2 separate regions of the Homo sapiens genome follow, and region 1 is linked to region 2. The links come from fine-mapping of genetic effects on gene expression. Tissue or cell type: whole blood. Region 2 holds a variant in brackets; the other region holds the start of a gene. All regions are shown on one strand. Distances are between the middles of the regions.

Evidence for each region. PIP is the estimated chance that this variant, and not a neighbour inherited with it, causes the effect.
Region 1: it holds the start of ANKRD13D, and the variant in region 2 is fine-mapped to the expression of ANKRD13D in whole blood (TOPMed, PIP 0.93).

What each region holds. Positions count from the first base shown.
Region 1 is chr11:67,286,160-67,291,299 of GRCh38, forward strand. It overlaps ANKRD13D (ankyrin repeat domain 13D), which reads left to right and starts at 3,144. Exons shown (of 15, transcript NM_207354.3): 1 at 3,144-3,391; 2 at 3,919-4,054; 3 at 4,163-4,287. The coding sequence starts at 3,302. GRK2 (G protein-coupled receptor kinase 2) reads left to right here. Exons shown (of 21, transcript NM_001619.5): 21 at 1-397. RefSeq lists enhancers at 1,050-1,299, 2,050-2,259, 3,494-4,418, 4,419-5,140 and silencers at 2,480-2,549, 2,730-3,499.
Region 2 is chr11:67,409,354-67,414,493 of GRCh38, forward strand. It overlaps TBC1D10C (TBC1 domain family member 10C), which reads left to right. Exons shown (of 9, transcript NM_001369496.1): 9 at 54-736. The coding sequence ends at 401. Among named protein-coding and RNA genes, the nearest start is that of CARNS1, 3.8 kb to the right of the region's middle. RefSeq lists enhancers at 2,523-2,662, 2,689-3,190, 3,191-3,690. The variant G/A (reference allele first, on the strand shown) is at 3,201.

The DNA of each region.
Region 1 (5,140 bases), 120 kb before region 2:
CATACTGGCCTCGCCTGGCCTGAGGTCTCGCTGATGCTGGGCTGGGTGCGACCCCATCTGCCCAGGACGGGGCCGGCCAGGTGGGCGGGCAGCACAGCAAGGAGGCTGGCTGGGGCCTATCAGTGTGCCCCCCATCCTGGCCCATCAGTGTACCCCCGCCCAGGCTGGCCAGCCCCACAGCCCACGTCCTGTCAGTGCCGCCGCCTCGCCCACCGCATGCCCCCTCGTGCCAGTCGCGCTGCCTGTGTGGTGTCGCGCCTTCTCCCCCCCGGGGCTGGGTTGGCGCACCCTCCCCTCCCGTCTACTCATTCCCCGGGGCGTTTCTTTGCCGATTTTTGAATGTGATTTTAAAGAGTGAAAAATGAGACTATGCGTTTTTATAAAAAATGGTGCCTGATTCGGCTGTCTCAGACTCTTTTTGTACCTGGTGACCCCTTTTCAGCTTCTGCTGGGCTGGGGCCTGATGGGGAGGGTCTCGGTGGTACCAGGTCTCCTCCACCGCCATGGCTTCCAAGGTGGTCTGCTCGGGCCCAGGCCATCTTCCAGGTGGGGTGAGGCAGTGGGTCCCACTTCCCCTCCTACCCCTCCCAGCTGACAGTCCTCTCCACCTAGTGGCTGTCCAGTGCCCATTCCTCACCTTTTCCCGGGGAGGAGAGAGCAGCTTCTGCCACTTCCCAGGTAAGCAGGAGGAGGTGCCAACAGTGTTAGGCCTGGCACAGTGTCTGGGCTGACTGGGACCGTCTCAGGCCCACAGAACACCCCTGCACAGCAGGCACCAAGCTGAGGCCCCTCCCCAGAAACAGTCACAAGGCACCTCTTCCCTCTAGGTCACACCGCAGCCTCTGGGCCCTTGGCCATCTCTGGCTTCAGCCTCCTCTCTGGCCTCACTGCACAGCCCTAGTAGGGGTCCCTGAGGCCTGAGGGGAACCCCAGCACTAGGCCTCTCCTCTACCCAGAGGCTTCTGGTCAACTTCCCTTTCCCCAGGTCCCTGCCCTAGCCCCGCGGGTGACTAAACAGATACATGTTGCTGCCCACTCCACACAGGGCTTTGCTGGGCATGGCTGGGGCCCATGGCCAAAGCACAGCATGCCAGGCAGAGAAGGGAGGCAGGCAGCTGGGCAGGGTACTCAGGGCTGAATACAAGAGTCAGGGGCAATGGCCTTTGAGCCAGGCCTCCAGCATTGGTGTGGGAAGGAGGGAGGACATTTCTGAGGCAGGGAAGAGCCAGGGACTCATGAGTGGCCCAGGCTGGCCGGAGGACTATAGGAAGGAGCCATGCCTGGAGGCACTGAATGCCAGGCTTAACCTATCCCGGAGCCAGGTGTGTGCTCAGGGCCTGCAGAATGAAGATACAAACGACATGGAGTCCAGACCTGCCATGCTCAGGGAGCCCTTGAAGGTGCGGAACAGGGCTGAGAGTGGTGAGAGCTGGCTCTAAAGTGATTGCCTGGTTACTGAGTACAGGATGTGGGGAGGGAGGTGAAGGACAGGAGGCAGGGAGACAAACCTCCGCAGTGGGAGAGGAAGAGATGAAAAGAGGCCAGACGGGAAGAACGTGGTCCAGCAGAAACAGGCTGGACTTGGGGCTGAGTGAGGCGGGAGTCTGGGGAAGAGGGTAGGTGTGGTTGGGTTGGCTTCGGACATACTGATGGGATAGCATGGGATCCCTGGGCACAGAGATGTCCTGGAGTAAGCTGAAATGTGGACCTGGGGGTGGCATCAGGGTGACAATGGGAACGGACAGTCTCTCTCCCAGGGATGTGGGGGTCAGGGAGAGAGAGGAGGCCGTGGAAGAGGGTTGAGAAGGCACTGTCATGGAATTAAGTGCCAGTGGGGAGCTGTGTTCAAGATGGCAGAAATCAGGAGAGGCTGGAACCAAGAAAGTCCTGTCGGGGTTGAGTTTGGAGAGGGCTCAGGGAAGGGACCGCCTCTGAGAAAAGGGGTGGCCAGGGAGGGCTGCAGTAGTGGTGAGCAGGTGAGCTCTGGGCATTCAGAAGCCTTCGGGCTGCTACCAACCCCAGGACCTCACAGATTGACACCATAGCGTGGGGTGGCAAAGTGACCCCAGATGGCACAGGCGCCATGTGACTACAGGGAGAAGGCAGGGTAAAAATGGCAATCAGGCCTTCCAGCCCAGAGTCTCAGAACTGAGGACGCCCTACAGCAGGAAGTGATGCTCAAGCTAGCTGGCCCTCCTCAATCATGTTCCACGTAGGGAAAGGGAGAATAGAGGGTCAGCCTTGGCCACCTAGCAAAACCAGGGCCCCAGACCCCAGGCTGGGCCTCCAGTAATCAAGGGCCGGAACTGAGCTGACGGAGGCCTGCACCCTAGTTCCGGTGTGGGTGGAGGGGCCGGCCCTGATTTCGAAACTCGCCTTCCTCTCCTGACGCTGGCAGCCAACCGCAGCCTCTGCAAAAGGGACTCGTGCGGCGGGCGAAGGCAGCCGTTCGCCGCGGGCGGTCCTCCGCCGGGACGGCTCTGCCGCTGCCTGGGCCTGCGCCCCTCTCTCCCCGAACTCCTATCCCTGACTTCAGGGCCCCGGGGGCCGCCTCCCCGCATCGCTGGGCCTGCAGACACCGGCCAGGTCCCAGGGGAAGGTGCTTCCCGCTCAGCCGGCAAGCACTTAGTGGCGTCTGCTCGTTGCTCGTCTCCAGGCCGGGTGAGGGGAGCCGGGGCGCCCCACTTCACCCGCACACCCCAGCAGAGTCGGTGACCGCGGGACCTGGGGTAGGAAGACCGGGGCGAGCAAGGGGATCCGCGGGGGAAACGCAGGCATCACGGCTGCAGCAGGACCGCGGCCCGCCGCGCACGCGCGTGCACTACCGAGGGGCCCAGTGCCCGCCCCCTCCGGCCCCGCCTTCCTCTTCCGGACCCGGCTCCGGGGGTCTGCGCAGGGCTCGGGGCGCCTCCTGCGGGCCGCGGGCGGAGCTGTAACCGGGCACCGCCCTCCAGGCCGCCCCAGCGGACCCGGGCCCGACCGAGGTCGGGGCGCAGACCCAAGGCCGGGCATCTCCTCGGGCGCTCGCGGTTGCTCTGCCGCGCGCTGGCCTGGCCGCGGTTGCCATGGTTGCGGGGGGACGGGGGCGCGCGCGAAGCCCCGCCCCGGCCCGGCGCAGCCCCGCCCGCTCCGCCGCCCGCCCCGCCCTCCCTGCCGCCCGCGCTGCCGCCGCCGCCGCCGCCGCCGCTACTGCTGCGGGGGCCGCGGGGGGCGCAGCTGGGGCGCGGCTCGGAGGGGAGGCTAGGGGGCCGTGCCAGGCCCGAAGCCGAGGCGGGGCCGGGATGCGGCGCTGAGGCCCAGCATGGCCGGCCCGGGCCCCACCTTCCCGCTGCACCGGCTCGTCTGGGCGAACCGGCATCGCGAACTGGAGGCCGCACTGCACAGCCACCAGGTGAGGCCCCGCTGGGGCACCCGGCCCTTCCCCCGGGTCCCCCACCCAAGGCTGTGGCCTCCGTCCTGGAGCCCCCCCCCCCCCCCCGCCCGCTCAGCTCCGCAGCCACATCCTGGGCCTTCCTCCCCTGCACGATCCCAAGCCCAGGTCACCGGCCCCTCGCGCCTGAGCCTCTGGCCTCCTCTCCCCTGCGCTGGGCCTTGCCCTGCTCGCCCGAACTCGCTTCCGCATCCTTGCTGACCCAAGCTGAGAACAAGAACTCTGGTCCTGGTCCCCAGGTTCCGCCAAACTCCTGACAACCTGCAGCTCTGCCTGACCAGGCCCCGCCGCCAGACCCCGGCTCTGCCCCTGCCTTCCCTCCTGCCCCCTCCTCTCCCCTGCCAGGACACGCAGGCCACCCTCTGCCATCTCCCTGGTCAGTCCGCCGTCCTTATTTCCCACAGCGATTCCCAACCCTGCTCGCCCTGGCAGCCTCCCTGCCTTGCCCTCTTCTCTCCTGCCCTTTGTGAGTGTCCCGTCTCCCCCAGCACGACATTGAACAGGAGGACCCCCGCGGGCGGACCCCACTGGAGCTGGCCGTGTCTCTGGGAAACCTGGAGTCTGTGAGAGTGCTCCTTCGACACAATGCCAACGTGGGCAAAGAGAACCGCCAGGGCTGGGCAGGTACTGCAGAGGACAAGGGGCTCCCCCTGAGGCTGGCAGGCGGGGGGCAGTGAGCAGCCAGGCCTGGGGTCATCTGGAGGGCTCCCCTCAGCAGCCTGGTGCCCGCAGTCCTGCAGGAGGCAGTCAGCACTGGAGACCCCGAGATGGTGCAGCTGGTGCTCCAGTATCGGGACTACCAGAGGGCCACGCAGAGGCTGGCGGGCATTCCGGAACTGCTCAACAAACTTCGCCAGGTACAGCAGGGCACAGTTATGGAGGTGGGGTACCATGGCAGGGCACCACCCTGGTTACTGTGCCAGGCCTGGCCTTGGAAAGGCACCCAGTTTGTGCAGTGTGCCTCCTGCCACCAGCAAGGAGGTCTGTCTATCTTGACCCCAGCCCAGGGTCACGTAGGAAAGAGAGACGGCCAGGCTCACGTGGGAGAGACTGGACCCTTTGGAAGAGAAGCCTTGCCAGCTTTGGGCCTCCTGAAGAATGCAGATTACCTGGAGCAGGGACTTCAGGTTGACTCGGTGGATTATGGCCTGAAACCCTGGAATACTTGCTACTACGCACCCTTCTGGAAGCACACGGAGGGGCCTGGCTGGCAGAGCATACTATCTCATACCCCCTACCCCAGGAGCAGGCTCGGAGGGAGCCACTGTGCCCCCTTTACAGAGTAGGACTCTGAGACCCAGTGGAAACAAAGGCTCCCCCAGGGCTCTGCACAGGCTCATGGCCAGGTTGAGGCTGGCCCTCCACCTCCAGGTGCTTACAGCCTCATTGTCTGAAGACCACTGTAGTGCCCCACTTGGCCCACCCTCTCCAGGGCAGAGTGGTTGGGCGTAGCTGAGCCATAGCAGTGCGTCAAGACTTGATGAAGGGCCAGGCGTTGTGGCTTACTCCTGTAATCCCAGCGCTTTCTGAGGCCAAAGTGGGCGGATCACTTGAGCCCAGGAGGTGGAGACCAGCCTGGGCAACATGGTGAAAGCCGTCTCTACAAAAAGTACAAAAATTAGCTGGGAGTGGTGGCACACACCTGTGGTCCCAGCTACTCGGGAGGCTGAGGTGGAAGAATCACCTGAGCCCAGGGAGGCAGAGGTTGCA
Region 2 (5,140 bases):
TTCCTGTTCCTGCCTTGAGGCCGGGCAAACGCAGCACCAACTGCTCCCCACAGGTGCACAGCGTGGTGCTGTCAGAGCGGGACCTGCAGCGGGAGATCAAGGCCCAGCTGGCCCAGCTGCCCGATTCCGCGCCGGGACCCCCGCCCCGGCCACAGGTCCGCCTCGCCGGGGCCCAAGCCATCTTTGAGGCCCAGCAGCTGGCAGGAGTGCGACGAGGCGCCAAGCCTGAGGTGCCTCGGATTGTGGTGCAGCCCCCGGAGGAGCCCAGACCACCGCGGCGGAAACCCCAGACCCGCGGCAAGACTTTCCATGGGCTCCTGACTCGGGCCCGGGGCCCCCCCATCGAGGGGCCCCCCAGGCCCCAACGAGGCTCCACCTCCTTCCTGGACACCCGCTTCTGAGAGGACCATGGACTTAGTGTCCCCCAGTCTCAATTGCCTGATGGCTGATGCCGGCCCGGCAAATAGGCACCGCACTTTACTCTTGGGACTCGGGGACTTGGCTTCCTTCCTGGCAAGGACCAGGCAGTGGGGAAGGAGGAGGTCCTCCGTGGTACATACTGGGTCAGGCACTAGCATGGAGGAGGGTCACAGAGTGGGGCACGTGAGGACCCATGGAACCGTCCTGGTGCCCAGGCCCTCACAAGTACCAAAGCCAGCACCAAAGGAGTCAGGGAAGGGGTTGGCTGAGTCAAGGGACCCCAGAGGGCACCAGGAATAAAATCTTCTTGAACAGATGCCTTGGATGGCGCTGGATCAAATGCCCTCCTCCCAACCCCAGACAGGCAGCCCCTTCCCCTCCTCCCTCATCTGCCCTTCCCAGCCCCGCCCTCTCCTGGTCCTGCCCTGGGGACACACCGAGGCTGCCCACTGGCCGCTGGGGAAGGTGTTTACAGTAATAAGAGCCAATTGAAAGTTGCCCTGCCCAGCCTCTGGGGACAGGAGTGGCTTTTGCACCTGCAGGAGGAGGGCGCCCCAGTGGATGGCGAGTCCAGGGGCTCTACCCCCTCTTCTGCCCTCCTTCCCCTCCCTCCAGGGTGGTTCAGTACTCGCTGGGATGGGGGACTCTAACCCAAGTCCTCCCCGCACCCATGGTTCTAGTCACATCTGTCAAAGGGATCCAGGCAAGAACAAAGGCCTAGTGTGCCTCGGACAAAGGAGAAAGGTCCCGCCAGCCCTCACCCCTCCCTGGGCCCTGCGTCTGCCCCCTCGGGACCGCCACCATGGAAACCCCCTCCCACACTCACTAATAGCCCCCGTGGGTGCCCAGGACCTGAGCCATCGCCAGGGCAACAGGGCTGGTTCCGACACAGGCGTGTGTCCCGCAGTGTCCATTCCCAAGTGCCCTCCCTTCGATGGGGAACACGGCAGGACTCCATATGGATGGGAGGCATCTGCAGGCCCAGGCTCCAGGGGTGGCCATTGGGTGGGGTGTCAGTGGAGTCACCTGTCAGACTCTGGGTTTGGAATGTTCTTGCGACAGGGCCACAGGCTGCGTCTATGTGGCAAGTGCCAGGTCCTGGGTCCTGGGCAGACTTGTCCTACTCCCAAGGAGCCTAACCCCTGGAAGAGGGAATCATGGCGGCCCAGACCCTTCCTTATCTGTCGTTTCTCCGGGGGAAACTGAGGCTCAGGAGGAGCAGGAACTTGCAGAAAGCCTTACTATCTATCCATAGCAGACCCAAGGTTTAGCCCTGCCCCAACCACTGGCAGCTCCCCCCTGGGCAGCCCCCTGGGAGTGCTTTCTCCTGCTCCTTCCCCGCTCTACCCCCAATCCTGCACCAGCCCCTCAGTGTGTGAATGAGGCAATAGCCAGACTCCCGTGATTTAGAGCGCGCTCCAGAGCCTCCTCTGCCCACTCCTCCTTACCCCGCTGGGGTGCCTGCAACTTAATAATAGCCTCCTTACCTGTAGTTTACAAAACCCTTTCCCAGACCCCCCGCCCCTAGGCCCTCTCTCTGCAGGTGGCCCCTGATATCCCTGTTAGAGACACAGGCTTAGTGAGGACAAGGACCTCACCCAGGCCCACAGTGAAAGGCAGAGCCGGCTGGAATGCAGAGGCAAGGCTCTGTGCTGTGTAGACTATGCCTTATCCTTAGACGAGGAGTGTCTTGGTGGAATCTCAGGCACTGTAGCGGGCAGGGTGGCCGGGGTCAGGGGGCACTTGTCCCTGAAATCCACTTGGGAGCTCCCCGCCCTCCACAGTTCAGCTCTTTGCCTGGGAGAATAGAGGAGCAAGGTGCAGCAGCCTCAGCCCTGGGCCGAGGGTCTGTCATGAGCCTGCGGGGGCGCGGTGGCAGTGGCTCACCCTGGACACAGACCCTAGGAGCCGGTGGTCTCCAGCAGCGTCCCTCCAGCTGGGGCTCAGTCATTGCCTTTCCTACTCAGGAGACTGTTTTCTGGGCAGCTCTTCTGTAGGTTTCCTTATCAGTCACCTGCATGGGAGCCCTAACTCACAGGCTGGACAGAAGAGGCCCAGTGCCCTCCGGGTGTGAACCCTCGCACACATGCGTTCTCACAGGCTCTCCTCCGCAGGGCTGCACCGGCCCCCACAGCACCTTTTTGCCAGCTAGGGAAAGACGTCTCTCCTCCAGGCAACATGCAGCCTCACCAGAGTGCACGGTGTAGCAGAGTGGGGTGTGATCTCTCTCCCAGGTGCCTTTGTGCAGTGAGCAACCTACACAAACATGCTCAGTGAACCTAGAAAGTCCCTACAGATCTGCCTGGAAGGGGGCTCAGAGAAGGGAAGTGATGCATCTGAGAGGACTCAGTGTGTGGGGACTGAAGCTGGGAGGGCCCCTGGGATGTCTGTCAGCCTGCCTCAGAGTGGACACGAGTGGGGGCATGCAAAGGAGTGGAGCAGGACAAATGGGTGCCTGCCATGGATCGGCGGGGAGGACCCACGGTCTCCATCTTGCCCTGCCACCCACTTGAGGTTCCCTGAATTCCCACACTGTTCCAGGCTCCCAGAGGGGTCAGACTTGGACTCACCTGCATGGGAAAGGCCCTTTCTTCTCCTCTGAGCCTCAGTATTCTCCTGCGGATAATGGGATTATAATAGCCCCCACCCCAGCCTCAAGAGGGCTCTACCAGCTCATGATGATGATGATGATGACTGTTCAGTCCAGCGGGACAGCAGCCAAAGCACTGCCTCTCCTCACCCCACCCCTACCTAGCCTCAGGTGATGTCCAGGCTTTCCT[G/A]GCAGGGGCAGAGCAGAACCACCCGCCCACCTGCCTGCCCCAAGTCCCAGGATCCTGAGCTTGGGCTGCAGCTGCCCAACTCTGATTTTCCTCCCTGTATCCACAAGGCAAAAGCCAGAGCAGCCAGGGACCAGACAGGGTGGCCTAGGAGAGGGCACAGCCGCAGCACTCTGTGCATGCATGCACGCATTCTGGCAGAAGATCCCGGCTCTGCCTCTCACCAGCTGTGTGACCTTGGGCAAGTCACACGACCTCTCTCAGTCTCATAATTGCTCCCTTGCATGTGAAGTGTTAAGCCTGGGCTGAGTGTGCACTGTATCCCCATTTGAAGATGAGAAAACTGAGTCCCCAGGGCTGCAGAGCTTGTTAAATGTTAAATGTCAAAGCTCATGCTCTTTGGATCACGCCCAGGCCCCACAGTGGGACCCCATGGGCGCTCAGGCCACCCAGGTGGCAAGCGATTGGGTCTCCTGGGGTGGTTGTGGGACCTGGGCCCCTCCCCTTAGTGATCTGAAGCTCACTCTCCCCAGCCTAGAATGGGGCTGGTTCCTCATTCCTGGAGCCTGGACCAGCTGTAGGGAGGGCTGCACGTGGGCCTGGAAGTTGTGTGGGGAATGTGGGCTGGACTGGGCATCCTGGAGAAGCCATTTCCCCTCTCTGCCGACCCTCTCCAGTGGTAGACAGGGATGGGTCTGCACAGACTGCCCTGTATATAGTTGCAGAAAGGGTCCAACAGCTGTCATCTCTGTCCCTGACATGTGTGGGCCCCTCAGTATTCTCCCCCAGGCCAGGAGGCTCTCAAGGACAGCCAGGGCTCAATATGTGTCCAGTTGCGAGACAGGCAGGGAGAAGGGCTGACTGGGGACTGTGAGAGGGAGGAGTTAGAGCCATAGGCTGCCCTGCCTAGGAGAGGGAAACCAGCCCCATTCTAGGCTGGGGAGAGTGAGCTTCAGATCACAAAGGGGAGGGGCCCAGGTCCCACAGCCAGAGCTAGGATTGAAACCCACTGGTGGGACACACTCCAGGAGAGGGGGTGAATCTCTGGTTGTGCTTCTGTGGGTGAATTGTGGCTGAGACCCAGGTCTCCTGGGGTATGCTTCTGTGGTTGGGTGGGTACACTTGGGTGTGAGTATGTATGTCTTGGGGAGATTATAGCTTCAACTCCGGGTGTGAAGTTGACCTGGGTGGGTGTTGATAAGCAGAGCAGATTTCTTTTCCTTTCTTTTCTCTTCTTTTTTCTTTCTTTTTTTTTTTTTTTAAAGAGATAGGGGGGCCAGGTGCAGTGGCTCACACCTGTAATCCTAGCACTTTGGGAGGCCAAGGTGACCAGATCATGAGGTCAGGAGATTGCGACCATCCTGGCCAACATCATGAAACCCCGTCTCCACTAAAAATACAAAAATTAGCTGGGTGGGCTGGGCGCGGTAGCTCATGCCTGTAATCCTAATACTTTGGGAGGCTGAGGCGGGCAGATCACCTGAGGTCGGGAGTTCGAGACTAGCCTGACCAACATGGAGAAACCCTGTCTCTACTAAAAATACAAAATTAGCTGTCATGGTGGCGCATGCCTATAATCCCAGCTACTCCAGCCTGGGCAACAAGAGCGAAACTCCATCTCAAAAACAAAACAAAACAAAACAAAACAAAAGTAGCTGGGCATGGTGGCTCGCACCTGTAGTCCCAGCTACTTGGGAGGCTGAGGCAGGAGAATCACTGGACCCGGGGAGGCGGAGGTTGCAGTGAGCCAAGATTGTGCCACTGCACTCCAGCCTGGTGACAGAGTAAGACTCTGTCTTAAAAAAAAAAAAAAAAAAAAAAGGGATAGGGTCAAAAAAAAAAAAAAAAAAAAGAGAGAGAGATAGGGTCTCGGCTGGGTACAGTGGCTTACACCTGTATTCTCAGGACATTGGGAGGCCGAAGCAGGAGGAGCACCTGAGGTC